Regions from separate parts of the Homo sapiens genome. Here regions 2, 3 and 4 are each reported to be linked to region 1. Evidence: microRNA targets listed by miRTarBase, many of them from high-throughput screens and not tested one by one. Region 1 holds a microRNA gene; each other region holds the end of a gene's coding sequence.

Region 1 (8,728 bases):
ACTTTTCATAGAACAGATGGACATATGACAAAAACCAGAACTGCTGTTTTGGGAAGGGCACCAAAACAAAAATCAGATGTTGTGAGTTCTGCCCCACAACATTTAAGCTCTAAGCTCTAGTTCCACTTACTAGCTTTGTGCCTTTGGGCAAGTTTTCTAAAAATTTGTGAGCTTCAAATTATGTATGTATAAAATAGAGATAATATCATCTGCATTTCTTCGTTCACAGCATTGTTGGGAGGTCTATGGAAGCATTTTAGAAATGGTAATGGGAGGTGTTTTTCTGGTCATTTTGTTTTTGTATTTTTCATTAAGAGGAAGGATAGTCCACTTAGGAAGAATAGAACAGATAATATAATAAGGGGATTTGAGATAGTAAATGAAATGTGCAGGTATGCTATAAATATTGTACCTCTCCTTTATTAATATTTAACATCTATGAGAAACCTTCCTCATGATATCTGGTTCTAGTGAATGTGTAGGTGACAAATCAGCTGAACTCAGTAGACGTCAATATACTGGTCATTGCCTGTCTCAGGAAAGATTTTTGGCCTCAGAGCACTGCTCTTGTCCCTGTCTGTTGATTGCTTTTCTTGTGATTTAATGAAGTCATTGAGGTGATGCTTTTTATATTTGTAGATAGCTCTAAGTTGGAAATGGCAAGGGTGGGGGCTAGGCAGCCAGTAAAGCAAATACTGGAATTTCATGGCCTGCACTTAGGATCCTACAAGATAAATATAACCACAGGTTGTACTCTAGCATATTCCCCAGGAGGTAAAGTCATGGCCTGTGTCACATAATAATGTCTCTGTTAATGATGGGCCACAAAATGCAATCATGGTCCCATAAGATTATAATACTGTATTTTTACTGTACCTTTTAGATGTTTAGATATACAGATACCTATATTGTGGTTGCCTGTGGTATTCAGTACAGTAACACGCTACAAAGGTTTATAGTTTAGGAGTAGTAGGTTGTATCTTACAGCCTATATGTGTGCTAGGCTTTACCATTTAGGTTTGTATCAGTACACTCTATGACATTTGCAGGACGAAATTGCCTAATGACACATTTCTCAGAATATATCTCCATAATTAAGTGATGCATGACTATATTTTTTCTCTGCTTGCGATTTTTACATAATCTACAATGATGTGTGTGTGTGTGTGTGTGTGTGTGTGTGTGTGTGTGTGTGTGTTTTGAGACAGAGTTTTGCTCTTGCTGCCCAGGCTACAGTGCAATGGTAGGATCTCGGCTCACTGCAACCCCTGCCTCCTGGGTTCAAGCGATTCTCCTCCCTCAGCCTCCCAGGTAGCTGGGATTACAAGCATGTACCACACCACACTTGGCTAATTTTGTATTTTTAGTAGAGACAGGGTTTTACTATGTTGGTCAGGCTGGTCTGGAACTCCTGACCTCAAGTGATCCACCCGCCTCAGCCTCCCAAAGTGCTGGGATTACAGGCATGAGCCACCATGCCCCACCAATTATATATAAAATGTTTTAATCCTGTTTTTTAAATTTAGCATTTCATTGTAAAATATTTTCCCATGTTATAACAGTGATGTTTTTAATTGCTGTCTATATTATTTGGTGTGGATTTACTATTTTCTTTACTATTGAGTATACAACTGTTTTTGGTTGATTTTTCTTTTTTTTTTTAATTTTCATTTGAAATAATCCTCAGTTCTTAGCTTTTCAGTTCATGGTACTAAAACACTGTATTAAAAGCACACTAGATGGCTCTAGAAACTTTTTTCATGAGGATTGGTTCTGATATCCAGCTTTCCTTCCTCGTCAGATCTTGGAGTCTCTGTGGATCGTTATGAGCCGGAATGTGAGCCTGCTGTTCACCACTGTCACTACACTCTTGACCATCCTCTTCTACAGCGGGACAGCCCTTCTCAATTTTGTACTCTCTCTGGTACGTCCACATAGATAAGTACACGTCATATTTCCTTCCCTGTTAAAGCATATTTCTGGTTTCATTTGCAATTGCAGATGTCTGTCTTCCTATAGTTTCCAAATACGATTTTTTTAGGAGATGTTGTCCTTTGTTTTGCAGATAATTTTCCTGACCACACTATTTTATCTATTAAGTTCCAGTGATGAGTACTACAAGCCAGTGAAGTGGGTGATAAGCCTGACTCCACTATCTCAGCCAGGTCCTTCTTCTAATATTATTGGCCAGTCTGTGGAAGAAGCTATCAGGTAGGGATAAGGTTTATGCTATTCTTATTTCTCCCAGAACTTTTTTTCCATGATAAGCCTGTTTTTTGTCATGAGCATCCTGATAACATTCAGTGCTAAACTCGTGATGGACTCTGGTATTTTCAAGGTTTTCATCTCATTTTGACAGGATAAATATGAACAGTGCAGTTGTTAATAAGAAAAAGATTCAGGCCAGGTACAGTGGCTCATGTCTGTAATTCCAGCAATTGAGATTGCTTGAGGCAGGAAGATTGCTTGAGGCCAGGAGTCTGAGATCAGCCTGGACAACATAGTGAGACCCTGTCTCTATAAAAAAATTTTAAAAATTATCTGGGCTTGGTGGCATGCACCTGTAACCCCAGCTACTTGGGAGGCTGAGGCCAGAGGCTTGCTTGAGGAACTTGAGGTTACAGTGAGCTGTGATCACGCCACTGCGCTCCAGCCTTGGTGACAGAGCAAGATCCTGTTTCTTTGTTTTTTGGAGATGGATTGCAGTGGTGTGATCTTGGCTTAGTGCAGTCTCTGCCTCCAGAGTTCAAGTGATTCTCCTGCTTTAGCCTCCCAAGTAGCTGGGATTACAGGCGTGCACCACCACACCCAGTTAATTTTTGTATTTTTAGTAGAGATGAGGTTTTACCATGTTGGCCAGGCTGGTCTCAAACTCCTAACCTTAAGTGATCTGCCTGCCTCGGCCTCCCAAAATACTGGGATTACAGGCATAAGCCACCATGCCCGGCCAAGACCCTGTTTCTTAAAAAACAAAAAAACAGACTGGGCGCGGTGGCTCACACCTGTAATCCCAGCACTTTGGGAGGCTGAGGCAGGAGGATTGTTCGAGCTCAGGAATTTGACACAACCTGGGCAGCATAGCGAGACCTTGTCTCTACTAAAAATAAAAAAGATTAGCCAGGCATGGTGGTGTGAAAGCTGTAGTCCCAGCTACTTAAGAGGTTGAGGTGGTAGGATTGCTTGAGCCTGGAAGATGGAGGCTGCAGTGAACTTGGTCACACCACTGCACTGCAGCCTAGGCAACAGAGTAAGACCCTATCTCAAAAACAAAACAAAATTTAACAATTCAAAGCAGTTTTGATAACCTTCTCTCAAACCTGAGATTTACAAAGATGTAATGGTCTATCTCCATCAGCTTTCCATCAGCAGGATCTTAGACTAGCTGTTAGCATCATGTCACTTGCTTAAGAGAACCCCCGCTTCCACCACCCCCATCTCCAACTTCTTTCAGAACCCTCTGCTGTCAGGAGTTTTAGCTTTGCTCCAGAAGGAGAGTAGGTGGACTTCCTGTTTCTCCTCTGTCCTACAGCCAAGCTGTGCCCTCTGCAAGGAGTAGGTTGGATACTGGAAATGCAGAATCGTTGTTTATCTCTTAAGTTATAGGCTCTGTATGCACTGGAGGTTCTGGCCAGAAACTTTTTCGTTATGACTTCTGGCATCCATGTATTTACAGGCTTTGTTTCTGAATGAACTTCTTCAACTTTTCCTCTGTATAAGCTCTTTCCAGGTCGTTGGCTCTTGGCTTCCTTTATCTTTTCCTCTTCATCATTTCTGGTAGGGAGGACCCTTTTGCAGAGCAGGCCTGTCTCAGCCCCTCCTGTAATCCCTGTCATCATTCCTCATTAACAAGACTCAACTACATTTTTACTTCTTATGAATACGTCTCAAATTAAACCCTCCTATTGTCCATTAGAGCTCCTTTTTCTAATACGTTGTTAACCAGGTGGTCTTAAGCATCTCTTGAATAGCAAATCTTTGGCTGGCATTTCTGTCTCCACATACTTTTAATAAATATTGTCTGGAACTAGTCTTCCACAGAAATCTTGATTTTTTTTTTTTTCTCTGATAATTGCACCTGATTGATCTTGGTATATTTTTTCACTGTGTTCATGTAATAGCTAGGGAGAATCCCATTTGATTGTTAGAAAACCTTCAGTTACATTCAAACAGGATGCATGCTCCTAAAATACAATGTCTGTAGAACTTTTGCTAAGTTCTCTCCCCTTTTCCTACTAGCAAGGCCTGGGTAAGATCTTCACCAATACCTTGTTTCCGCGATTGGCTGTCAAGTGGGATTAAAAAAAATGCTCTTAACACCTGTATAGTGTCCTCAGGTATCCACACAGGGGCCATCTATAAAGATTCCAGATTTGGGAGTATATTATCCAGTGTAACAGCAATTGGGGTGAAGCTGTTTCGAAGGAAGTACCAGCTATAGCTTCCCTCCTAAGTCCTATATGACCATTGACTATCATCTTTGCTGAATAAATGAAATGATGAAAATTCTAGCAATAGATAATCTTTTGTTTATCTAGGTGATATCTTTCTGACTCAGAAAAGCTTTTGCAAATGCTCTACCAAAAAGGAAGGCTAATCTTTTATCTTCCCAGTGGGGTAAAGCTATTTATTGTAGCAGCCATATCAAAGGCTGGTAGGAATTCTCCAGTCAGTGTGGCTTAAGCCAAGCTTTGCAGAAAAATATCTACCTTGTTCATAAAGAACTTCAAGAAAGATGATGCTTCCATTTTCCTCAAGTAATCTTCATTGTTACTGACTCTTATTCTTAGAAAAATGTTTCTATTTTCACATCACAGCTTTTGAATTTTCTCTTGTTCTGCTTTCTTACAGCAGACCATCCTCTAAATGTCTGTCACCTTTTTTCATACCAAATATGCCACCTTTTTTGTTTTAAACTTAATTCCTAGCTGTTGTGTTTGCCAGTCAGTGGTAAGTAAAGCTGTTAGTCACACCTAGGTTCAGCTGATTGAAAGCACATACTCTGTTACACCATGATGCCTTCTTTCAAGAGGAGCTGGTTAGGGAAGATCATGACTTATATTTGTGGACATAAGAGGGTGGCATTTAGAAATTCAGGTCTTTGGCTCAGGAGAGAATTTGAGATTACAAAGAGTGCTGTCATCTACAGCGATATGAGGAAATCAGTCTTTTACAAATTAGATTCGACTTCCCTTCTTGGGAGTGCATACACTAATTATGTATTATAACAGTAGCTTATGTCTTGGTTCCATAGTATACTGGCATTTAAAAACCATTTGTTTTATTATCACCTTATTTTAAATACAGAAAAAATTTTAACAACCTTTGGTACCAGAACTATAATCTAATGGTTCTCAGAATTGATAGATTTTTATGAGTCTGATAAATATGGTACAGACTAAAGAATGGGTTATGGCCTGAGACATTTTTCTAACCAAAGCTATATCAAGTTATGTAATTTTAAGGCTATAATTCAAGGTGTTTTTTTTGCAGTTTAAGTTCCTAGGGCTGTTTCTTTACTGGCTCAAATTCAAGACTTAAAATGTACAGATTTTACAGAGATTCCTCTGAAGAGCTTTCTCCTGTGGAGAAGATGGTAGTGAGTTCTCTTTCTAAGAGCTCCTGTTGGATTTTTCATCCTGAAGGTTTGTGTTGAAGAGGCAATATGTTTCTTCATGGAAAAAGATTTTGAGGGAAAAATAAGTGGTTATTTATAATTTATGAATGACTATGAAAATATTGTAATGTCCTCAAAGTGCAGTTTAGCCTACAAATATCAGTGATACCAACTTTTATAAGCATCAGTCATTAATCATCATCTATGTTGCAGCTAAGTGGAAATCATTACATTCATTTATATGATCTGTGAATAAGTCAAAAATGGAATTGAAATTGGGGGTTAATTGCATGACCAGACAGTGATAGTGTCTGTTCGTGAAGCTTTGCCTTCTGAAGTATGTGGTTTCTTTATGATCACTATCTCATTGAAGTTTTGAACCTTACTCATTATTTTGATTCTGAATAAGTATTCTTCTCAGTTGAATACATTTGCAATTGGGTTTTCATTTCATGAAGTTTTGAGTCAGTGGCATGCATCCTTTATCCCCAGACCATTTTCCTCTCTTCAGCAGCATGTTGTCTCCTGAATGTATACATCACACCCTTCTTCCCTGATGCTCCCATTCTGCTTGCTCTGGTGGAGATATTGCACATTACTAAGTTGCATGTTGTCACGGCCTCAATGCAATTTAGTGTGTGTGATATTTTCACATGAGTGCATGCACACGGGTATGGCTCTTGCTTGCTGGGATTACAGCTTTTCAGTGCCAGTGGGTGGGTGTCCTGATGAATTAGATAAGACAGTGTGTATGCCATGCGATTCTCATTTGGAAAGTGAACATGCTTCCCATCGGTACCTTCCAATTTTGGAGAATTAAAAGTATTTGGATTAAAAAAAGTCAGCAATGATCATTTAGTAAATCAGTGTTTCCATTTTTTACTTTGAGCAAATGAAATATTTATTACAAATTCTCATTGATTTAAGAGTATAAACAATATTTAAATGTATAAGGAAGAATGTAAAGCTGTAAGAAAATGTATTTTCATTTATTTGAAGAAATCTCTCCCAACACTGGAATAGAGAAGCAGAAATCTCTTATGCATATTTGGGGAAATTAAATTAACTGGAGTTCTTAAATAATAATCAAGACAGTAAAGGTATGCTTAACCTACCTGATGAAAGATTCATCTCATAAACTTAAGTTTCCAAGGTAAATTACCTTAAAAATGTGTCTTTTACTTTCTCATTGTGATGCTTCGAAAACTGCTAAATTCATTTTAGTGGGCTAATAATGGAACTAGTTTTGAAATACACGTTTACTATTTGCCTATGTAATTGAAACAACCCCTTGTTATTTTTTTAGTTAGCATTAGAGTAAGCATCCACAATCACTAGGCATTGTCAAGGACACAAAACCATGTATTACTGTATGAAAATATTGAATTAATATTTACTACTACCATAGCCTCCAGATGATCTATTGTGATGCTGTCATTGTATGTTTCTGTGTTTCACCACTGTTTTGGAGGGTGAGAATGGAAGAATTCCACGTAAGCAGCTCATCCCCTGTGCCCTTCAGCAGCTCGGCCGTTCCCCTCATGCTGGAAATCTAATGTCAGCCAGGTTGCTATATGACACCCTGTGGAGCTGGGTTTCCAGGGCAGATTAATCAAGAAAGGGAAGATGTGACCTCTCAAGGGAGGTTGGGGCTGGGAAGGGGTGGGTAGAGAGAGATTTGTTAAAGGATACAAAAATTACTTAGAAGGCATAAGTTCTAATGTTCTACAGCACTGTAGAATGACTGTAGTTCAACAATAAATTATATCATTTCAAGTAGCTAGAAGGAAGATACAGAATGCTCCCAACAAAAGAAATGAGGCCAGGTACGGTGGCTCACGCCTCAAATCCCAGCACTTTGGGAGGCCAAGGCGGGCAGATCACCTGAGGTCAGGAGTTCAAGACCAGCCTGGCCAACATGGAGAAACCCCATCTCCACTAAAAATACAAAAATTAGCTGGGCTTGGTGGCATGCACCTGTAGTCCTAGCTACTCGGGAGGCTCAGGTGGGAGAATCTCTTGAACCCAGGTGGTGGAGGTTGCAGTGAGCTGTGGTCATGCCACTGTACTGCAGCCTGGGCGACAGTGAGACTCTATCTCAAAAAAAAAAAAAAAAACCAAAATGATAAATGATCAAGATGATGGATATGCCAATTACCCCTATCTGATTACTATACATTATATGTATTGAAACATTATTATGTACCCCATAAATATGTAGAGAGCAGTCAAGGGAGCTGGCGAGTACTTTTCCCACTGGTTATTGTATATACTGTGTCTCTAAAAGCTGACTGGTCTCTCCCACCAGCTCACTTTCTACTTGAGACATACCATATTGCAGTGAGGCTAGAATACTGGGAAGGGGAATGACAGTCCTTTAGAAAAGAGGGTGGAACCAGTGTAAGGAAATGTGGAGGAGGCAGAATTTCACTTTGGACTCTTCACTCCTCCTTTTCTTCATTATTTATCTTCTTCCTTAGACAGGTAATTCTTACTCAGCTGTGGTCTAAGGCCCTGTGTACACTGAGTTTATAGAGCTTCTGGACTGGTTTGTTATTCTCCCCATCCCACTCCTTGCTTCAAATATCATTCCATTAAAAGCAGGTCATCTGATTAAATCCTGAATTGTCTTGTTATTTTTTTCTTACTCAGTTTAGAAAAGTAGCAAGCACAATCTGGTTTGTCAGAAAAGAGAGGGTTGAGAGCTAAAGTTAAGTATCAGGAAACGTGTGAAAAAGTAAGTTTCATCCTAGGATTTATAAAGGATGAAGATCAAGAGCTGGTTAGGAAGAGTTAACATTGTAAACAATCATTTGAAGTCAATTCAAGCTTCTGGTGCAGAGGAGTTATTATTAAATATAGTTGTGTAAAGGAGGCATGGATATTCACACCTTTAGTGCCATACGGTATAAATATACAGTAGGCTTTATTAGGGGAAAATCCTAGCTGAGAAAAAGCTGATCCTAACTAACTCTTGGAACTTTTATTCCACAGAGAGGTATGCTTAGGTGGGGCATAGCTGGATTGGATGCACGATGGCCTACCTTCCAATGGACAGGAATCCTGCTCTATAATAGTCTATATATAGTATGGGACAGGAGAACATCTCTAAGA
Region 2 (4,000 bases), not on the chromosome of region 1:
TGAACTTAGGGTTCTAGGGACTATGGCCGGGTCACCGGTGGCCAGGGGCAGAGATGAGCACCTGTCCATGTAAGCCATATGCCACCCCCACAGGGCCTGGCAAGGTGCAGAGGGTGCAGGTCTCGGCCATGTACCCCTTTGCCCCTTTCTGAGAGGGGCAGATGCCCAGCCCAGTGACCCAGAGCCTCACCCCAGGAAGCGGGTCCATGCAGCAAATCAGCCAGGCACTGGCATGGTGGCCCCCAGGCCTCCACCGCCTCACCAGTCCCTGTTCAATCTGCTGATAACGCCTTTCCTCCCTTGCAGGTCTGTGCAGACTTTTGCAGACAAATCAAAACAAGAAGCTCTGAAGAATGACCTGGTGGAGGCTTTGAAGAGAAAGCAGCAATGCTAAACCTCTGTTTCATGCTAACCAGACACGCCGTGCACTCGTTAGATTCCTTTCTTAGAAAACTCGTTTTCTGCTCCCTTCCCTCGTCCCTTCCCTCCCCGACAGGTCACATAACAGCTGCATCATTGACCGCACAGCGCCATCTCTCCCTGAGAATAAAGCCGATAGCCACCCTCCTCCGGCTCCGAGCCTGCTTCTGCCACACCTCGCTCTCAGTTCTCTCCACATTTCCATAGAGACCGTGTGGTTTTTGTTCACCCGGGCCCCCCGTCTTCCTCCCTGTCCCCCCATTTATAGGCATAAAATCCACTGTCTGCCAGCCTCCCTTCCCTCCCACCTTTTTGGTACATTGGTGTAAAAAATGTAAAACAAAAAAATTTTATGAACTAACTGTGGTGTGTGAAAGAGAGAAGAAAAACTGGAAATCTTATTCCGTGTGTGTTTGGGAGTTGCTTGGGGTTGGGGGTCGTGGGGACAGGGGACAGCTCTGGGAGCAGAGGTGGCCCTCGGTGCCGTCCTGCGCAGACTCTCCCGTCCCACGGAGGCCGCGGGGTGGGGGCTGGGGGGGGTGCCGCCGACCGTTCCGCTCTTCCGGCCAGGTGCTTTTCTGTCAATTTCTATGGAATGCAAAAGGAGGTTTTTGTTTTATTTTGTTTTTTTGTAAAGCTTAAGAAAAAAATCTACATCTTATACTTGAGCCTCCATACTTAAAAAAAGAAAAGAAAAGAAATCAATAAAAAGAAACTGGGGCGCAGTTAGCGCTGGCCTTCTGTGTTCCTTCTCGCCGGCCTCGCTTTCCGAGCGCGTGTGGCCGTGGCCGTGCGCTGGCTCCAAGCTGGGACGCGTGTGGGCCCCGCTCACGGCAGCAAGGAAGTGTCCCGTCCCCAGCCCCGCCGCCCTGAAAACACCAGGTATGTGATGAGGTGCAGAGTCCCTGTCCCTTTCCGCCCTCTGCCGTTGGAGGGCAGAAGCACCAGCAAACACTGTTCTGGCGCCGCAGCACGCACCTCCCGCCGCCTTCCCACTGTGCCTAGTACAAATGTGAGGCAGCCGAGGTTCAGTTGCAGTAACTCAGCCAAGGCTGCACAGAGCCACAGAGTCTGCCTTCTACCCTCCAAACTGCCCCAGGGAAGATCTGAAGCAGATCTCAAAGTCCCTGCCGAGACCATCCCCCCATCTGTCCGTGGCCAATCAGCGGGCTCCACAACCTGGCCAGCCCATGTGTTTGAGGTCCCTGGGTCTGATGCAACATCTTTTTTTTTGAGACGGAGTTTCACTCTTGTTGCCCAGGCTGGAGTGCAATGGCATGATCTTGGCTCACTGTAACCTCCGCCTCCCAGGTTCAAGCGATTCTCCTGCCTCAGCCTCCTCAGTAGCTGGCATTACAGGCATGTGCCACCATGCCCAGCTAACGTATTTTTAGTAGAGACGGGGTTTCTCCTTGTTGGTCAGGCTGGTCTCGAGCTCCCGATCTCAGGTGACCCTCCCGCCTCCCAATGTGCTGGGATTACAGGCGTGAGCCACCGCACCCGGCCGATGCAGTATCTTTATGGAGTGCAAGTGCCATGGCATACAGACAGCAGAGAAGCCCCTGCCCCCTGAGTTCCTAGTGCCACGTGGAGAACGCAGGCACACTCCAGCCGTGAGCCATGAGGGGATGCACCCAGCGAGCCGTTCCCCATGGGCACACGGGTGTTGCAGCCTCCCGGGGTCATGTTGGCAAGGTGCCTGGCACACAGAAGGGCCCAGCGAGCTGTTCCCCATGGGCACACGGGTGCTGCAGCCTCCCGGGGTCATGTTGGCAAGGTGCCTGGCACACAGAAGGGGCTGGAAAAACAAATGTTTTGCTTTTCATTTTCTTTCATGGTAAAGTTTTATCCAGGATCATCAAGGTAGGTACAGGGGCCACTGCAGTGGGGTCTTGTGGATGGGGAGAGAGATTGGGCTCAACTCTGAGTGCAGCAGCACGGGCAGGTGGGGATTAGAGCCAAGGAGCAGAGGGGGGCAGTGGGTGGAAAATGACTCAGAGGAAACCTCAGGGGTCAGGGGTCTTCCGGCCAAACACACCTAACAGGATTCTTGCTGAAGACAGGCCAGGGTGACCAGACATCACCTGGGGGTGGGGGTGGAGGATGAGGCCAGGTGTGGTGGCTTACGCCTACGATCCCAGCACTTTAGGAGACCAAGTTGGGAGGATGGCTTGAGCCCAGGGCTTTGAGACTAGCCTGGTTAACATAGACCCCATCTCTACAAGAAATACAAACCAGGCGTGGTGGTGTGCACCTGTGGTCCCAGCTACTTGGGAGGCTGAGTTGGGAGGATCACTTGAGCCTGGGAGGTTGAGGCTGCAGTGAGCCGAGATCGTACCACTGTACTCCAGCCTAGAAGACAGTGAGATCCTGTCTCAAAAAAAGAAAAAAAATATCAAGGATGGCCGTTTTTGTAAAATTGACTTAGCAAGGGATTGCTGAAACTGGATTTTACAAGGGCACACAGGTGGGCCTAGGGGAAGGTTCAGGAGCCTGACTAAAGTTTGGCCAAGCAAATAATCTTTGGCAGTTGTCACTTCAAGAAGAAACTGGACAAATGGAAAATGCCTTTCCTTGGACACATGAGAGGAGCTGAGGTCGCAAGGGAAAAACAGCCACCCCTGAAGTCAGTGAGACAGGCACACCGGGAACGCCACAGCAGAGGCCTGCTGTCCTGCAGCAGAGGCTGCTAGGCTGGGAGCTGCTGTGCACGCCAGTGGTAATTCCACAGAACTGCAGAGGTGGAGTGGACTCTGACTCACCTGAGAGTCACCCCTGGAGGCTCAGGCCCGCTCTCCTCTCAGGGGATTTCCCTTCAGGAAACCCACCAGTTGCTCCTTGAGCTGTCACTTTCATCAGCCGTACAATCCTGGGACCAAAAATAATGCTTGAAACCCAGAAATTGTGACTGCGATGTATGACAGGCCTGATCTTGCTCTGCTATCTAGAATCTTCCACAGGGACCCTCACTACCAGTTGGGTTTTTTTGTTTTTGTAGAGACGGGCCCTCACCCTGTTGCCCAGGCTGGTCTCAAACTCCTGGCTTCAAGCGATCCCCCACCTCAGTCTCCCAAAGTGCTAGGATTACAGGTGTAAGCCACCACGCCCAGCCCTCATTGCTAGTGTTGTGTTGTTTTGTTTTATGATGGAGTCTTGCTCTGTCACCCAGGCTGGACTGCAGTGGCGTGATCTCGGCCCACTGCAACCTCCACTTCCCAGCTTCAAGCGATTCTCCTGCCCCAGCCTCTCAAGTAGCTGGGACTACAGGTGCCCGCCGCCACGCCCAGCTAATTTTTGTATTTTTAGTAGAGGCCGGGTTTCGCCATGTTGGCCAGACTGGTCTCGAACTCCCGAATTCAAGCGATCCCTCCCCCAACTTGGCCTCCCAAAGTACTGGAATTACGGGTGTGAGCCACCGCACACAGCCCTCACTGCTAGTGTTTTAATGCTAAACTCAGCTGGTGAGATTGGGGACAGTGGGCCTCGAGGATGTGTTTGGTGACCCTCTCCCACTTCCCAGCCATGCCTTTCCCTGCTCGTTCCTTGGCTGCCTGGTGAGGAAAGCTCTGGGGTCCAGCAG
Region 3 (8,728 bases), not on the chromosome of region 1:
AGGAAAGTGTTTAGGTTCCTAAACTGTTTTTCCATAACCTGAGCTTTGTCGGAAGTATTAGAACAGATCTGTAGCAAAACTCAGAAACAGTGAACCCTCAGTGCAGTTTCTCAGATGTGCTCACATGTGAGCCTAGATCCATCTTATACCTTGCTATTCCAGTTTAATAGTAGGGTATCGAATCTGGCTTCCTGTGCTGCAGTGATTTAGAAGATGTATGAAATAGGGAATTGTTTTGTTGGACTCTTCCTTATTCCTTATCTGTTTACCACCCACCAATACAGCAACTACTAAAAATAAAGCTAGAGCTCCGTGTTCTTCTAGTAGTGAGATGACTCAGTGTTGATAATGTGCCCTCTCTTGATTCCCAGGTGTATAAACAATGACATTTTTGATGAGTTTTCTTGCCCAAGGGGTGAAATCTCCAGCCAATAAACAGAGCATCTGTGAGTGCATGTCAGCGTGCACATGCGTGCATGCCTTGTGTTTCCGTGTGTGTGCATTTGTGTGCTGTGTTTTGGGTGCAGCACACCAACATGGCACATATATACATATGTAACAAACCTGCACGTTGTGCACATGTACCCTAGAATTTAAAGTATAATTAAAAAAAAAGAAGCTAGTTAACTGTAGACAATAAATCTTTAGATGTTACTGAATCAACTCAATCAACCAGTTCCAGCAAGTCCAAATATTTGCAGTGGTAGCAAATATGAATAAGCGATCACATATAGAACACTTGCCGTGTGGACAATCAGATGGATTCTGTCATCTAAAATTTAAAAAGCAAAATAAAAAAATACCACGGAAACCGTCATGTTATGGGAAAGTGACTGCATATTTGTAAAGAACACAGTCAATACTAGATGTGTGAGCTGTAAGTAATGTAATCATTATTATTTTGGTCTGGAACATTTTATGTCCTTTAGTCATTAAAATAAGGACCTATGAGGCTGGGGCAGCATGGAGAAATGACTATTATACCATGCAGTGACTTTTTTTAAAAAAGAAAAAACATAAACTTAGGGCATCTATTTCCCCCCCATTTTCTCATTTAATTACAATTCCCTGATACCTTTCTACTAGACTCGTACTGTTTGGGGGCAAACTAGTAAGAAGCTTGGGGCAAAAGACTTCTCTTCCAATAAATTCCTGTGGAAGTAGGAACCTATTATCTGTTTGTTCGTTTTGTAACGGAGCTTACATTCTTACCTGAAAGAGACACAGCTCTGGAGGTAAAGGGTGTGGAGGAGAGGAAGAAATAACAGTGTGTGTGCACATGCGTGTGTGTGCACGTATGTGGCAGGTGTTTGCAAACACGAGGGAGGCACCTATGCTTCCCTTGTTTCCAGTGGGAGAAGCTGCCTAAAGCGTGTCTCTTCCTGTTCAGGAAGACGTCTTGGTTCTCTGAAAATTTGTCAGGGATGGTGAAATCTCCATCAATGAACACAGAAAGCTCCACCAAAGAGACAGTTCATGGCGAATTCAGTTATAGTGACATTCTAGAAGTTGACACTGGTCAACCCTTTCTATCCATCTCCACCCCATCTCGGTGTCTTTCTTTTGCTGCTGCTGCTCATCACCAACAAACTCATGTCTGGTTTTTGGGAAATATTAGTGTGTAATGGCTTCTATAAAATAAGAGCTCTCCTTTCTAGAAAAATTTAATAGTCTTAGAAAATAAGCCCATGTTTTATAGTATTGTTTCATTAGGAATAAACACATATATTGTAGTTAAAAATTTTCTCAGCTTCCGAGTGGTCTTTCCATTTCATCAGATATTAAGAAGTGGGAGTATGAACGAAGGAATTAAAGAAGAAACAGAAAAGAAGAGAAAAAAATCACAAAATTTAATACTCAAACACACCAGGCAACTGTAGTCTCTTTCCTGGATAATTTATGTTAAAATTCATCAGACTCAGAAGCCGATATGATAAATAGCCCAATATAGTTTCTCCTTGTTGTCTAATTTCATCACAGGTCTATCTGGCTCATTTATAATGCAATCTCTTTCTATTTAAAGGCAAAATACTTCAAGTATTTGACAAGCTAAACATTAGCCCTAAAAATTTGTATCAATCTGCATTTACATATTTTGTACATAAAAAGTTCTCAAACTCAAAATCAAAATATTTACAAAGGTATCATGTGCTTATCGATGTCACACATTTTCTTTGCAAGGTGCATAATGAAAATTTCAGAAGTAGTCGATTCTGTTTCTTTTAAAATGTCTCCATTAAAATACAAATAAACAAACTATTGATGCATGGCGCAATTTGCATGGATCTTAAGAGATGTTCTGCTGAGTAAAAAACTGCCAGTCTCAAAAGGTACATACTGAATGATTCCATTTTTCTAGCATTCTCAAAATGACAAAATTACTGAGATGAAAAACGGGTGGGAAGGCTGGGGTGAGGGAAGGAAATGGAGAGGAGGATGGGGTGACTATAAAGGGACAACCTAAGGGAGTTTCTTTGCGGTGATGGAGCAGTTCTGTGTCTTGGTGGTGGTGACGATACGCCTTTCTACAGGAGGTAAAATGTCATGGAGCTATACACAAAAACATACACAAGAAAAATGACTGCATGCAAAGGCTGGCAAAATCCAAGTAAGGTCTAAGCTCTAGCTAAATTGTATTCTCAATGTCCTGGTTTTGCTAATGTACTGTAGTTATTGCAGAAGACCAGGTGATGAGTACACAAGACTTCCTTGTACTATTATTGTAACTTCTTGAGAGTCTGTAATTATTTCATTATATAAATGTAGAAACATAAATCTCTGTTGAAGAAAAGATTCTGGCAACTAAACACACTTGGAAGCAATTTAGTCAAAGACTGGTGTCCTTTCGGGAGGCAGCGCTCTTAAGTGTAAACACTGAAGACTCTTGATTTAGCCTATGCTTAGTATCCAGGTAACCAGGTCTGCAACTCTTAGGCTGTGTAACTGAAAACAATTAGTTGTTCCCATTACTTGTATGAAGATTATAGAATCAGGAAATTTCAGAGCAAGCAGGGACCACGCTCTCAGGTTACAACTCTCTGTTTTGGCATCCTGATTTGTAATGTGAGGGCTTTGTCCTAGTTTCTTTGCAGTGTCTTGCCTAGTTCTAAATTTCATACTACACATAAACTACAGAAATTGTAATGGTAATCAAAAATTTTTCCTCAGTATCGCATAAGACAGATATTTCAACTTACGTTGATTATAAATGTGGATACAGAAAGAACCTATTTATTATGTAACACCATCTACTAGAAATAACTGAAGAGCAAACCAACTGGACTAATTCTTACTCCTTAGTTCAGGTGGTAGTTTTCCAGGCAGAGGGTCTGGGCGGTTTCCTTGAAATGACATACCATCACATCCTCCTTGTATAAAGTATAGTGCTCATATCTACTGGAGTGTTTGCGTAGAAAGGGGTGGCATACTTAGGTCAGTGTGTCCCAGGAAGAGTCCCTTGACTACCCATGAGACCTGCTAAATCGATCCTGGGGAGATTCTGGACAATCACACACTCAAACTCAGGAGGCTTTAAAGAGTAATCCTTATCATTTGGGAATAAATGATGATATGCTTTTTTAACCAATATAGCTTTAGTTTCCTCACTTGTCTCAGCTACTTTTCTTCATGGAATGCTAACACTGGACTACCTTGGGAACCGGAGCCCACTGTAAAAACAAAGTCAGGTTCTAGGGCTGTTCCTCCCTCATGATAACACACCTAGAGAAAAGGATTTCAACTGCAGCAACATTTGTTTTTTTGGCATTGAGTTCCCTTAAGTCTATAATAATTTATATTTGAAAAAAAAAACTAGCACCTCATAGCATTAGTGTAATAATTTTATTAATAAAACGAACCCATAGGGTTCAAACAAGCATACAAAGTAATTTTTTTTCCTGTGGGTTAAATTGTTACATTTTTAATAATAAAAATAAGAAAGCTTTCATAGTTAACTTACCAAAAACATAACGCTTGCCTATTGTTTCTTACTGTGCAAAACAAAAACAAAGTTTTGCCCACAGAAGGATTTTGTGCACCAAAACATGCACATTTTCAATTTCAAAATTTCTGCATCAAAATGAAAATTCCAAGGCCACGTTTTTGTTTTTTCAAACTAAAGAAGAGCAAGAGGGGAATAACCAAGCAAATAACAGCAGCTACATTTTTAATCTTCATTCCCAGGTATTTTCTGTTTCAATGTAGAATTCTCCACATTCATAAAATGATATCTTCAACCTACTGCTTACAGTCAGATATGCCAGTATCATTTCAATAAGGCAAGTCACACCTTTTAGCTATTCTCTTAAGTCCTACAGAGATAGTTTCACTTCAATTTCACAGGGACACTTCATGATTTATCTAATAAAGGTGATAAGACAATCCTAGTGAAGGATTCCTTTAAGTTGTTGCTTTTCTAGATGGAACCAAATAATTAAACTTTCTCTTCTCCATACTGGAGTTTGTTTCTTTCATTATGTTTTAGTATCATGGAGTCGAACAATGCCTTGGCAGGGCATGAACTATATAACTCAGAAGTCAATAAACAGTTGAAGATGATCTTTTCTAAAGTAAAAATCAACTGTTTAGACAACACTTAAATACACATTACCTGTTTAAAGACACACACACGAAAGCAAAATTTAAAAACCAAATCAAGGAATAACGTTTTGTGACAATTTCAGTAGCACAATTACTGGTCTAACAGTTTTGCATTGTGGGAATTTAAATAGCGGCTTACAATGAAAGAACTATGCACGATGCTTCCAGGATTGCAGAGGAGAGAGGTAAGCCCAGAGGATGAAAAGCATACATTTGCCTAATGTGTGTAGAAAATTCCCTGATCAAATGGCCAACTAACTTTTAAATACAAAATTTAACCTTAGAAGAACTTTTCTATTTTTGGTGAACATGCTGATTGAAAGAAAAATCAATCATTCTGTTAAATGAAGTACAGTATTCTGCAGGGGAAGCACCAGGGTTTCTGGATCAAACCCTTAGGACATGAAGAAAACCAAAGTACTCTGCTGGTTCAAAATCTGTATCACAGGAATCCCTGGCTCCCTTCCATGTGTCCAGAGATGCTCTCAGCTCACAAAACCAACAGATGGAAGGAAAAGCAAGTGAACATGTGACCATGTGGGAGGGGGGCTGGGGACGGTAAAACACTGCTCAGACTTTCAGCAGCAACACAATCCTGTTGGTCTGAATATCCTGAGGTTAAATGATAATAAAATATTGCACCAACACAATAAAGAAAATCACAGTTTAAACAGAATTACTGAAGAACTGGAATAATGTACAATGCAGTGACTGCCATCAGTAGACCTAGGTCTCTTGACAGGAATTAAAGTTGTGTCTTTTCTAAAAATGGCACTCCTACCTTCTTTTGGTTTGGTGTTTATTTTGACATTCTCTTAGGTATACATATATTTACTTCCATTTAACGCTAACTTACTGAATTTTCCCCTTGGCCCAGTTTCATATTTAGTGATAGATGAGACTGTGGCTGTAAACAGCAGCAACTCCCAAGAAGAGTACTCAGGGCGAGAGATTTAAAAACATATCTGATAACCCCATTAGAGGTAGGTTAGAAAAAGGCCTTTTATTTGGGACTGTGTAGTTATCAAGGCATCCTGCAGATGCAACCTTTTCTCTCCCTTCTTTCTCTTACATGCTCCTAGGTAAATAAGATATGAGGAAAATCAAACGTATATCCTGTTAAAGCACTTAAAGGGGGTAAAAAGTACAGCCCTCAACAAAACGTGTTTTCACATTGAAATTCATCTTTCCTCTTTGAACCGACAAGCTTTTCAAGAAACCCTTTCTTGGTTTCATAATACCGTACTGCCGATTTATAAACTATATTTTAGTCTACCCTTGAAAGAATGAAAACTGTAGTACTTCATTAGGACCTCATATGACCATGATCTCAAGAAAAGATGCTTTTTCAATGTCTTTAGGCCTGAATATGGTAGGAAATCATGAAGCACCCAAAGACTCAGGATCTCACTTCGTATTTGGAGTGGGCCATTCTCCTATGCACACACACCCTTGTTTTGTTGCCCTCTCCAAAATCAAGTCTTCACCCCTTCAGTTCATATCGCCTTCGTTCCACTCTTCACCATGGGAAACTCCCACAGTGTTTCCACTGTTTACAGATTCCTTTCTCTCACGTCAGCGCAGGCACCCTTTCACTTACTCTGTAACCATCAGGACTTCCATTACATTCTGTGACTTTGCACATCTTCATCCCAGTTTTTAACAGGGATATATATACGACCATCATATAAACTTGTGCGGCAATCCTGCCGGCCCACCAGAACTTTCTCACATTCTTTAATTTCTATTGCCTTCAGTCTTGACGTTCATTTATGTTTTCAAGTGAATCTTTCCTGTCTCTTTCCCAAAAAGGCAGAAGGAAAAGAACCAACATTCTAATTTGATGATGAACACAGTGATTTCTGAAATACGTTCAGAGAATGAAGGAAACAGGCTGGCTCTCTTCTACGTCGCTAGGATGTGGGTCAACCTGCAAAAAAAGAGCGGACTGAGATTAGTGTTGTAGCATTATTTAAAACGATTCTAGTACCTATTTGTAATTATATGATGGTTATATGCCAAGCTGGTCAGAGCCTGTGTAAGTCCCAGAAGGTGCTTAAGTTCTCTATATTCCATGGCCAAATAACACACCTTAAAGGCAATCCACAATACTGTATCTGATGCCATAGATCACAAGGACAATAGTAAAAAAATCTGGCAAATGAATCAGCGATAATCTATTACCACTGTATAAACAAATTTAAATGTATCCCTTACTAATTATGAGTCAGCAACAGACACTCTAATGAACGGATGACAAAAAATGATTATTTGAAAATAATACAGTAAAAGTCTAATTTTCTTTTGCTTTGCTTACCTCTGAATAAAGAGGTGGGGGTTGAAACCGGAATTCTTGTATACAGGCAAACACAGGACAGCACACTTCTCCCTCACAGTTAGGGGGTTGAGGGTAAGGAGGAATGTGTCTAGAGAATTCTTCCTCTGATACCACATCTGCATAATTTGGTGGTGCTGAAATAGAAATGAAGTTGGAGTTAAGAAATCCACTCAAAAATTAATCTCGATTCTTAACTGCTACAAAAACAAGAAACAGCTAAACTTGAAGATAAAAAATATGGCATTCTTTCCCTCTAATCAGCAAGGTTTTATGCATATTACAATAAAAAATAGATTCTCCTTTTATTAAACTACTACTAATAGCTTCTATTCTAGTCTCTTGAGATATAGGTAAACAAATATCACTGAAATATGACTATAGAAAAGACATAACACACCATACATTTGACTGTTTTTCATTGTTTTCCTATTACAAATAGGAATTAGGAAATGTACATCTTATTCCTGAATCTGCTATCAGCAGCTTTGCGTCCTAGATAAAGCTAAACTTTCAAAGTCCCTCCCAGGACTAATGCTTTCTGATTTTTTAGTAGTAGGAATAAAGATACCTATAGTAGCAGTACTCATCAACATCTGAGCACTTAATAGTGTATATATTCTGTTCCTAGGTATTTTCTAGGTAAAGCTTCGTTATGAAAGAACGCCAACATATTTTACCTTCAGGCTGCTCTGGCAGGGTCAGTGTCAACCAGCTCATATCCATACTGAACTGGCTGGCAATGCTGGAGTTTCTGCTGCCAAAACCATTATATGGAATTGTACCGATCACTAATGGCAGTTCGAGCATCAATTTTTTAGCACCAGGAATGTGAATGTATACCTAATAAGCCAAAAAAAAAAAAAAAAGAGAAAGGAACAAATGTAAGCTACACCTCCAGTAGGTAGCCCAATTAATTTCTTTTTTTCATAGAAACAAATGCTTTTGTCGGCTGCCACCACCCCCATCACAATTCTCAATTGTCTTGATTAAACAAAATGAAGAGTACACAAAACATAGTGAATGCTCTGTGACAGAGAACTGTGTCCTTAACATGCATCATTGTAGGTTTGCATGGCTTATATAATAATTATAGAAAATTAAGGCTATGTCTTCAATATAACAAACACCCCTTAATGCACCTCAATTCTTTTATGGCATTCTATTAAATCCCCTGTGGGGAATAGGTTTTATTAAAAACAAGGGCCAATCTTCATACAGTCCCCAATTGGTGTTAATGCTGAAATAAAATGACATTTTTATAGGCAACTCTACATACCCACAGTAACATGACATCAGTTATTGTCCATCATACACATTTTTTTTTAAAAAAGAGCTTTGCTTACAGCTAAGGAATAGTCCACTCTGATAATGCAGCAATCCAGGATGGATGGAGTAACAGGTGGGATTTTTAGCGTTTTCCCATTCCATGTGTCTGTGCTCCCAGAAGCGATGTGGTTTCCTCGCACATTGGCGACCATGTGTCGAATGGTCTTTGTTTTTCCACTAGCCAAATATGTCTGCGTTTGGAAAATAGCAGCCTTTGGAACAATCAGACGAGAGGAACAATTTTCTATTTCTGCATAGATTGGAATAGCTTCTCCTAAAAAGAAAACAAAACCAGGGAGGATTCAGAGACTCTTGAAAAAGTTCTCACCACAATGGATTAGGGCCGTATAGCTGAAATGTTCCAACATCACTTTAACAAATTGAGAAGCTTTGATGGAAAACATATTGTAAATTCAAGCCAGAGAAATAAAAATTCACTGCAGGTTGTGGTAGATCTTATTTTCT
Region 4 (8,728 bases), not on the chromosome of region 1:
ATGTGTGTAGTATGTGTGTGTATATATAACAAACATGTAAATGGTGTTACCAGTAATCAAAGTAACTTATGTATTTTAAGAAGAATAAAAGTACGTGGAAAACAAGATTTTAAAACGTGGAAGGCAAAATTTTACCTATGTAATTTCTAAATCTCTGATCTCTATATCAAAATTTCTAAATCTCTATATCAAAATTATTTACGCTGCTTAGGTTTAAACTATATTTTTCTGGGGGAAAATGTACATTGATAAAGTTAATCTAGTTTGAATTCCTAGTCATACATTGTAGTTCATCAATGTGAAAAATTTTAGTTAACTTACTCAGTATAACTTACCACTTTGTGGAAGTTACAATTAGACTTTTTTTCCCTGTAACTACACATTTTGAAAACAAAAATGCCAATTTTAATTTCAGAAGAATGATAACAAATTTTCTTCACGAATTCAGATAGTCAACTTGAACCAAGCAATAAAATTATTTTAATTCCTAGCTAGGGCTGGGAGAGGGGGAGTAGTGCTACACAGTGTATTAGGGCAGGATGTCATGGTTGTGGTGGTGATTCTGGTGTTTGCTAATTTTTACTGATAAGCAAATAACCTCTGTGTCTTAATTACTGTACCAGTCACATGAAGGCAACCTTTTCAGGCTAAAGTCACCATGGTGTACCTTCTTTATAAACTCTCAGGGGACTGATTTTTTTTTTCCTTTTTCTTCACCTTATACCAAGAGAGAAGGGGACTGAATTCTTTCAGCATTTCTGGATTGCCTTGTAATGAAGTAAATGAATCTGTTTTGGATCTTGGACTAAAAATATTAAAAATAATGTGTTACACTACAAAAGACACAGGCTTTTTGTCACATGGAGGCTTTTTGTCACATGGGTCTGGATCCTAATGCTAGGTGTGCCGCTTACTGATGACTTGTCCAAGTTACTTGTAAGCCTCATTTTCTTCAGGTACAAAATGAAAATAATGATATCTGCTTTACAGAATTATTACAAAGATTAGAATAAAATTAGCTGTATCTCTAATTTTAGCACATACTAGGCTTTCAATAAATTCTGCTGTTAGGTCTGTAATATCTTTAAATTTATTTAAGTGTAATATCTTTAAATTTTAAATACTTGGTGTTCCATCTTAAAATTTGGTCATTATAGTCTAGGTTTTCATTTTAATTTAATAATGGAAATACTCATCATGGAATCAGTTTGAAACCAGACAGATAAGGTAAAATATGTTAACCCATGGTAGCTAATGTCACTTGTTGCCTTAATCTTTAATACATAATACATATTAAGCTTCATAATTCTTTAAGTTGGATTATGCAGTAATTTGTGCTAATTCAGATGGTAGAATTGGTAAGAGGCTTTTAGAGCCTCTTGCTTATTGGGGTTGCAGAGGTATTTGTTGTTTGCATTTTTTTCTAATATACATAGCTATTCTGCATCTCTATTCTTGATCTTGGGTGGGAAGTATCATGAAGAAATTATGTCACCATTCTTAAATTTTAAAACTCATGAAGTTAATACAGTATTTTGAAAGTTTGATTAAAGTGAGCTGCTATCTAGTTTTCAAATGTTCCTACAGCAGAACCATTGTCTAGTTTTCGGTGGCAGTTGATTTATATTTGAGTCAGGGTTTTGGGTTTGTGAAATGCAAGTCTAGTGATGTGTGAGTTTTAAGTTCATTATTTTCCCCAGATTTTAATGAGGTTAGAATAATTTTATGTGTTTTCCTTTTTTTTTTTTTTTTAGACGGAGTCTTGCTTTGTCATCTGGGCTGGAGTGCAGTGGTGCAATCTTGGCTCACTGCAACCTCCACCTGCCAGGTTCAAGCGATTCTCCTGCCTCAGCCTCCTGAGTAGCTGCTACTACAGGCGTGCACCACTACGCCCAGCTAATTTTTGTATTTTTAGTACAGACGGGGTTTCACCATGTTGATTGGTAAAGATGGTCTTGATCTCCTGACCTCGTGATCTGCCCACCTAAGCCTCCCAAAGTGCTGGGATTACAGACGTGAGCCACTGTGCGCGGCCCTGCTTATTTTTTAATATAAATGTAATAAAGACAATTTGGAAAATTATTTCTAAACTTTTTTCATGGACAAAATCTTTAGGTTTTTATACTTCGTTGAAGGGGGCTTTATTTTAAATATCCTGTAATTTCCAGTGATTCAGAGATACAGTAATTGCCCCCTCTTTTTTTAAGTTAAAAACAATACACAACATTTCAGTGTCAAGTGGTCCATTAGTAGTCTCTTGACTTACACACAGAAAGCCTGTCTGTATTTTTTGTACTCATTGGTTAGAAACTACAGCACATTATTTTTCTTCAAGCTGTATTTTATGTAGAGGAAAAACAGTTGGTATATCTGTGTTGATGTTGATTCATATATATTGGGTATTTTATTTATTTTTATAGTAAAATGTATTTTGACAAATGTAAAATGAAAAGGGGAAGATATCTAAATTCTTGAATTTGTTTTTATAGGAGTTCCATCTGGAATATGACAAATTAGAAGAACGGCCTCACCTGCCATCCACCTTCAACTACAACCCTGCTCAGCAAGCCTTCTAAAAAAAAAAAAAAAAAAAAAAAAAGACTTCCCTTTTCTTGGGGTATGGCTGTCTCAGCACAATACTCAACATAACTGCAGAACTGATGTGGCTCAGGCACCCTGGTTTTAATTCCTTGAGGATCTGGCAATTGGCTTACGCAAAAGGTCACCATTTGAGGTCCTGCCTTACTAATTATGTGCTGCCCAACAACTAAATTTGTAATTTGTTTTTCTCTAGTTTGAGCAGGGTCTGAATTTTTTCATTTATTTCCTTTTTTGCCAGCAGACAGACTTGAGTCTGTAAAGACAAGCAAATACACTGACAGAAGTTTACCATAGTTTCTAAAATGTAAAAAAGAAAACCCCCAAAAGACTCAAGAAAATTAGACCACAAATTTTGCATTGTTCATTGTAGCACTATTGGTAATAAAATAACAAATGTTTGTGCATTTTTATGTGAAGATCCTTCTCGTATTTCATTTGGAAAGATGAGCAAGAGGTCTGCTTCCTTCATTTTACTTCCCCTTCTGTTTTTGAAAGGCAGTTTCGCCAAGCTTAATGCAAGAATATCTGACTGTTTAGAAGAAAGATATTGCCACAATCTCTGGATGGTTTTCCAGGGTTGTGTTATTACTGAGCTTCATCTTTCCAGAATGAGCAAAACACTGTCCAGTCTTTGTTACGATTTTGTAATAAATGTGTACATTTTTTTTAAATTTTTGGACATCACATGAATAAAGGTATGTATGTACGAATGTGTATATATTATATATATGACATCTATTTTGGAAAATGTTTGCCCTGCTGTACCTCATTTTTAGGAGGTGTGCATGGATGCAATATATGAAAATGGGACATTCTGGAACTGCTGGTCAGGGGACTTTGTCGCCCTGTGCACTAAAAGGGCCAGATTTTCAGCAGCCAAGGACATCCATACCCAAGTGAATGTGATGGGACTTAAAAGAAGTGAACTGAGACAATTCACTCTGGCTGTTTGAACAGCAGCGTTTCATAGGAAGAGAAAAAAAGATCAATCTTGTATTTTCTGACCACATAAAGGCTTCTTCTCTTTGTAATAAAGTAGAAAAGCTCTCCTCACTGCAGTGTTGGCTTTGATTTGAAATTGCGAAATTATTTCTTCAACATGAAAAATAGAGGAAACAAACTGAAGTTTTACAGATATCAAACTGAATGGTGTGACTCAAATGTCTTTTTCAGCTTCCAACAAGTAATTTAATGGAAATATAGTGAACCGTTTCACTTGTAGGTTAAAAATGTAGACAGTATTAATCAGAGAAAACTTTTTTAAATGGGTTGTGGCAGCATTAGAAATAAAACATTCTGAATACTCTTGGAACCCAACCAAAGTACTTCTGTGAAAAATTTATGAGAAATTTCTTGATAGACCTTTAAATTTATCTTTAAGAAGTAATGTGCAAATGAAGGTAAGCCATAAGGTGGGAATGGGTAGACTTTACCTTCAGTTTGCTGGCCTAGATATCTCATATTTACAAGTTAGTGGATTCTTTTCCCATCTAAATACAAATACTGTATTTTAAAAATCAGAAGATTGAAGCTTCCAAAGCAGAACTAGAGAGTAGAAAAAAGGCAATGAGTTTTGATCCTTTAAATTTTCATTTTTAACCTATTTTTCTATGAAGAGTAAAAGTCTGTTGGCATTAACCAAATCTTTTGAAAATGAAACATTTATGACATTGCTGTGTTTGTGTACCAGGAATATAAAGTGGCTTAAAATTTACCTTTTTCTATGCATTTTGAGATATGAGAAACACTATAAAAAACAGGATTTTCTATCTTTCATAATTAAACCAAAGCATCTCCTCAGTAAGAAAGATAGCACTATATAAATCATTTTATCTATTGTGCACAAACCTTCACAGAACACTATACCTTATTTGACATAAACCAGAGTCAAAGCATAGAAATCAATCTAGAAAAAAAAAGATTACATTTTTCCTAGTAATTCACTTTGTAAAATAAAATGTAATTTTTCCTACATAACCACAAAAAACAAGTAGGAAGAAAAATGTGGAAGGGGATCTTTATTCTCATGAATATAAACAACAATATAGATTGAAGTCTCAGCTGAAGCGTGATCATGACTGGTACTGATGAATGACTCCGAAAAATAAGATAGCTCATACCAAGTGGTTTGTTGTCTTGGCTGTAATCTTTTTTTCTCTTTTTTTGTTAACTGCCATATACAGAGTTTTAAATGCACACTTTTCCATTTTTTTGAGTTCTTTTTATCCTGAATCATCAAAATGAAGAAACTCTTGCATGTTAGCCAACTTTTTATAACTTGTTAATATCAGAAATTACCATGCTATGGACTTCAAAATACAAATTACTCTATTTGAAATATTTAAAACACTACTTTGAACTTTTTAAATGTAACAGTTATAATACGCCTTGATTTTATAACGTGGTTATACATGTAAAGAGGCTGAATCCAACTAATTATATTTCACATTTTCTTTCAAAGCTTTAATTCTGTTAATTTCCCCCTATATAGCTAGTGAAATAGATGTGTACACTATGTTAAATAAATTTTTTAGATTAAACTATGATTGGCTTTCTGGGAATAAAAGCTATTTAATTGCAAAGGGAAATCCTTTATTTGGTTTCAAATATAATTATTTAGGTGGTATTATAATTTATATGCTAAAGCTCTATTTTCAGAGACTTAACTACACAAATAGTTTTCCTTAGATATAATACATTTTAAGAACTGAAAGTTTATGTTAATTCTTAAAGTATATATAACTAGTCTGTTTCTTTTTGACACTGAAATTGGGACAAAGCAGGTGCTTGATAGTTGTTGACTGATAAAAGTTGATATTTCAATTTGAAAATAAAGTATAAAGCATTGGGCTTTGAGATAGCTTACTCAATTATCATTTGCTATAATTTCATTTTCACAATAATCTTTTTAAGCATTTTCAATAACTTTTAAATATTTCAAATTTTTCCAGTCTATAGCTTCTCTAATTGATAAATCCTCTTCTATTCACAAGCCATAGATCTTCCACTTTGTTATATCCATTGCTCATAAAATATGTGGCATCTGAGCATGGCTGTACAGTAGGACTCATTTCATTTAACTTAGATTTAATAGCTCAATTTTGCAAAAAGTTGCTGAAAACCTATACGTGTGTGGAAACAGGATTGTATAATACATTAACCATGGTTTGTCTATGTAGTTAATAAGATCTAGAAATATCTACTAACTAGGTTCCATTGAGATAGTCTCTGGAGAATGAACTAAGCCAGACATTGAGATGCCTTTACTTTCTAAAAGTTGGATCCTAATGGCAGGTCACAAGGCTGTCTCCTTGCCACTGGCATTACCAGTGACTTTGATTATACCATGAATACATGACAGATCTGGAAGATGAAGCAAATAAACTCACTGAAGGTTAAAATTGGGATCTAAATCTAACCAAGTAGTTTGGTGTGTAGAGTTGAATCAAATAGGATACATTCAATCAAGAAAATTACTTAGTTTTGCACTTTGATTGTTAATAAAGAATGGTGGAATATAACATGATTTGAGTGGTTCATATATAGATCAGTAAGAATTGTGATCCTGTTGCCAAAAATACTAATGTAATCTTCAGCTACATTAAGAAAAATATAGCACTCAGAAAAAGATAGGAAGCCCACTCTACTGGAAGTAATCACTCATCTGAAATGTCATCTTCTGTTTGAATGCTGTATTAGAAGAGCTGCCATGCCTGGGGAAGGCAGAAGGGGATGGAGAAGTAGCATGCCTTCTAGCTGCCTGGCAAATGCTGTGTGTTTTTATATACATTGTTGTCTGAAGAATAGCATCATGAGGTGAAATTTAGTGTTCCCATTTTAGAGTAAATTTTAAAAACAAATAGGAATACAATTTTGGAAACATGGTATTTGTCTTCAGGTATCAAATTCAAGAGCTGTCAATGAAAGGCAATTAAGCTCATTCTTGTGACTGGAAGAGCAGAACTAGGACAAATAAGGGATTTCAGTGCAATATTAAAAAGTAACTGAGTTAATTCAGATTTTTAAATCAGTTGCTTTGTAAGGCGTTAGATTTAACTTCATAGGACATAACCTAGGAGAGACTGGCTGGATAGTGTTCTGTGCATAAGGTAAGGAGTTGAATGTCTTAATGTTCCTGTGGCTCATTGAAAAAGTGTTAAAGTAAGTGAGATAATTACTGTATTTCAGCAAATCTAATTGCCATCAATTGTAAGGGACACCATTTTATGTACCACTAAGACAAGCTGCCAATTACAGAATGTATCTATTATGTGAAGAAAGAACGTGCATCTTAGAATTGATGAGATGTAGGTCTTGGAGACAACTAAAGAATACTAAGGGGAGGCATGACAGTTGTCATCAAACACAGGAAGAACTGGAATAGGGCAAGTCTCAAACCAATAAGGAGAAGTTGAATGAAACAGACTTTTTCTATATTAAGGTGCTACACAGTACTAGCTGCTTCATGAAGTAAAGGTTCAGTCAATGTGCAAACAAACTGAATGACTCTCAATTAGTTGACAGGACTGCCTTTTTAAATAAAAAGTTGAATGTGATTACTTCCAGACCTCTTTTCAGCTCTTTAAGGTACTGATACCCTTTTCTTGATTTGAAGTTGGAGACTATGATGTCATCAGGGCTAAAAGGTATATACTTAAAGCATTGACCTTTAAGTACATAAGAATATGCTGTTCTGTGAATCATGGATAAGGTATACTTAAAATCACTGCTATATCTTTGGAAAGAAATTTAAATCAAAAAAGAATTACAAAAGGCAACTTTATTGAACTTACATGTAGAGTTGTTTTGATGTTAGGAGTAGGAATGTGAAACATTAATAAAGCACAACAAATAGTAATCATATGTATGTGTGTATTCACCAGATTTATTTATGTGTATATTTCTACATTTGAAAGAGGAAAAAGACAATTTTTAAGTTTTGACGTAAATGTTTAGTCTGAAATTGTACGTTGCATTAGTGTGCAATCTCCTGGGTACAAGTACTAAGTAGAATAAAATCTTGTTTCTTAAAATCCCACTAAATATTATAATCCCTGTGTATCAGGGGCATTCATTTACTTTTTCCTATAACATCCAATGTTCTAGGGCAGAAACCATGTTACTACAATAGTATTTGTTAGCAGAACAGGAGGAAAGCTGAATCCATATATAAATATAAAACAGCAAAAGTGCTTTTATCTCAGTTATTTCCTGGGAATATTTCTGCTGATCTTAAGATTTCCTCTTCAGTTTGTATGTATAAAAACTGATAATGTAATGGGAATTACATTATCAGTTATGTATGCATTAATTGAAGGTTTTTTAATCCAATTAAACAGTTGTGTAAATACTGTGACAAGATTTTAGTGACATGTCTCTTTATCATAAGAACTCAAGATTTATAGGGCTTTTTAAAAAGCTAGTCATTTCCATGTTTATTGTACAGTTTTCTCTCAGTTATTTAAATGACTTCTTGAAAGTGTCAAAATTCACAAGGTCCTAATTGTCATAATTCTCTATCTTGAAAATCCAAATTATTGCATAGTCAAATAGCATATGATAACCAGTTGACATGTGCTAAAATACTTAAACTATCTTCTACATAGCAAAGCCAATTTTTCATTCTTTTTGAAATTTATCTTAGTTTTCATTTCTAGGCCTGAAAGGCCATACCATACCACCAAAATGTTTTGACATCTTTCTTAGAGAAGATTAAATAAAACTGGCTTTATGCCAAAAGTGTTAGTTCTTTTAGACAATAATTGAAGGCACTAGCTGAGGAAAACAAATCTTTACTATGAATCAGAGCTGGTCTCTAATTTGTATGTGTTTCCTGAAATGTAATGTTTTTGTGATTTGCATTTATTTTTGGCCTAAGTGACATTTTGACCATATAATTTACTTTTAAAACTTACAATACATGCTTTTTTCTTCCAGGCCAAACTATTTCCTAGTGCATAATGAAGATAATTTTGATGATAATACATGAATTCTTCAAACATTTTGGAAGAATACTTCAAATTTCAAGGGTGGTATGATGTCCACAAATCGCTGAGTCTGCTTGATTCTTTTTAGAATCAGGCCTCTTGATACTAATTTATAATGAGAAAACTATTTTAAATTAAAC

The links. The annotated mature microRNA hsa-miR-32-5p reads UAUUGCACAUUACUAAGUUGCA and lies in region 1 at 6,201-6,222, shown strand. An mRNA with a match to its seed (bases 2 to 7 or 8) in the 3' UTR can be bound and repressed. Matches are read on the target gene's strand: a 7mer-m8 pairs with bases 2 to 8, a 7mer-A1 pairs with bases 2 to 7 and ends in A, and an 8mer does both.
Region 2: the mRNA of CAPZB is a reported target of hsa-miR-32-5p. The part of its 3' UTR that is shown has no 7-base or 8-base seed match.
Region 3: miRTarBase lists ARRDC4 as a target of hsa-miR-32-5p. Seed matches in the 3' UTR shown: 8mer at 5,234-5,241.
Region 4: miRTarBase lists CNOT2 as a target of hsa-miR-32-5p. Seed matches in the 3' UTR shown: 7mer-A1 at 3,392-3,398.

Annotation. Positions count from the first base shown.
Region 1 is chr9:109,043,766-109,052,493 of GRCh38, reverse strand. MIR32 (microRNA 32) reads left to right here and starts at 6,196; the gene lies at 6,196-6,265. TMEM245 (transmembrane protein 245) reads left to right here. Exons shown (of 18, transcript NM_032012.4): 13 at 1,802-1,924; 14 at 2,066-2,211.
Region 2 is chr1:19,335,924-19,339,923 of GRCh38, reverse strand. CAPZB (capping actin protein of muscle Z-line subunit beta) reads left to right here. Exons shown (of 9, transcript NM_004930.5): 9 at 307-1,149. The coding sequence ends at 394. Among named protein-coding and RNA genes, the nearest start is that of SLC66A1, 26 kb to the right of the region's middle. RefSeq lists enhancers at 1-439, 1,606-2,570.
Region 3 is chr15:97,968,932-97,977,659 of GRCh38, reverse strand. ARRDC4 (arrestin domain containing 4) reads right to left here. Exons shown (of 8, transcript NM_183376.3): 5 at 8,281-8,537; 6 at 7,615-7,777; 7 at 6,917-7,071; 8 at 3,827-6,529. The coding sequence ends at 6,473. Among named protein-coding and RNA genes, the nearest start is that of ARRDC4, 13 kb to the right of the region's middle. RefSeq lists an enhancer at 6,049-7,248.
Region 4 is chr12:70,351,340-70,360,067 of GRCh38, forward strand. It overlaps CNOT2 (CCR4-NOT transcription complex subunit 2), which reads left to right. Exons shown (of 16, transcript NM_014515.7): 16 at 2,490-3,654. The coding sequence ends at 2,576. Among named protein-coding and RNA genes, the nearest start is that of KCNMB4, 11 kb to the right of the region's middle. RefSeq lists a silencer at 696-896.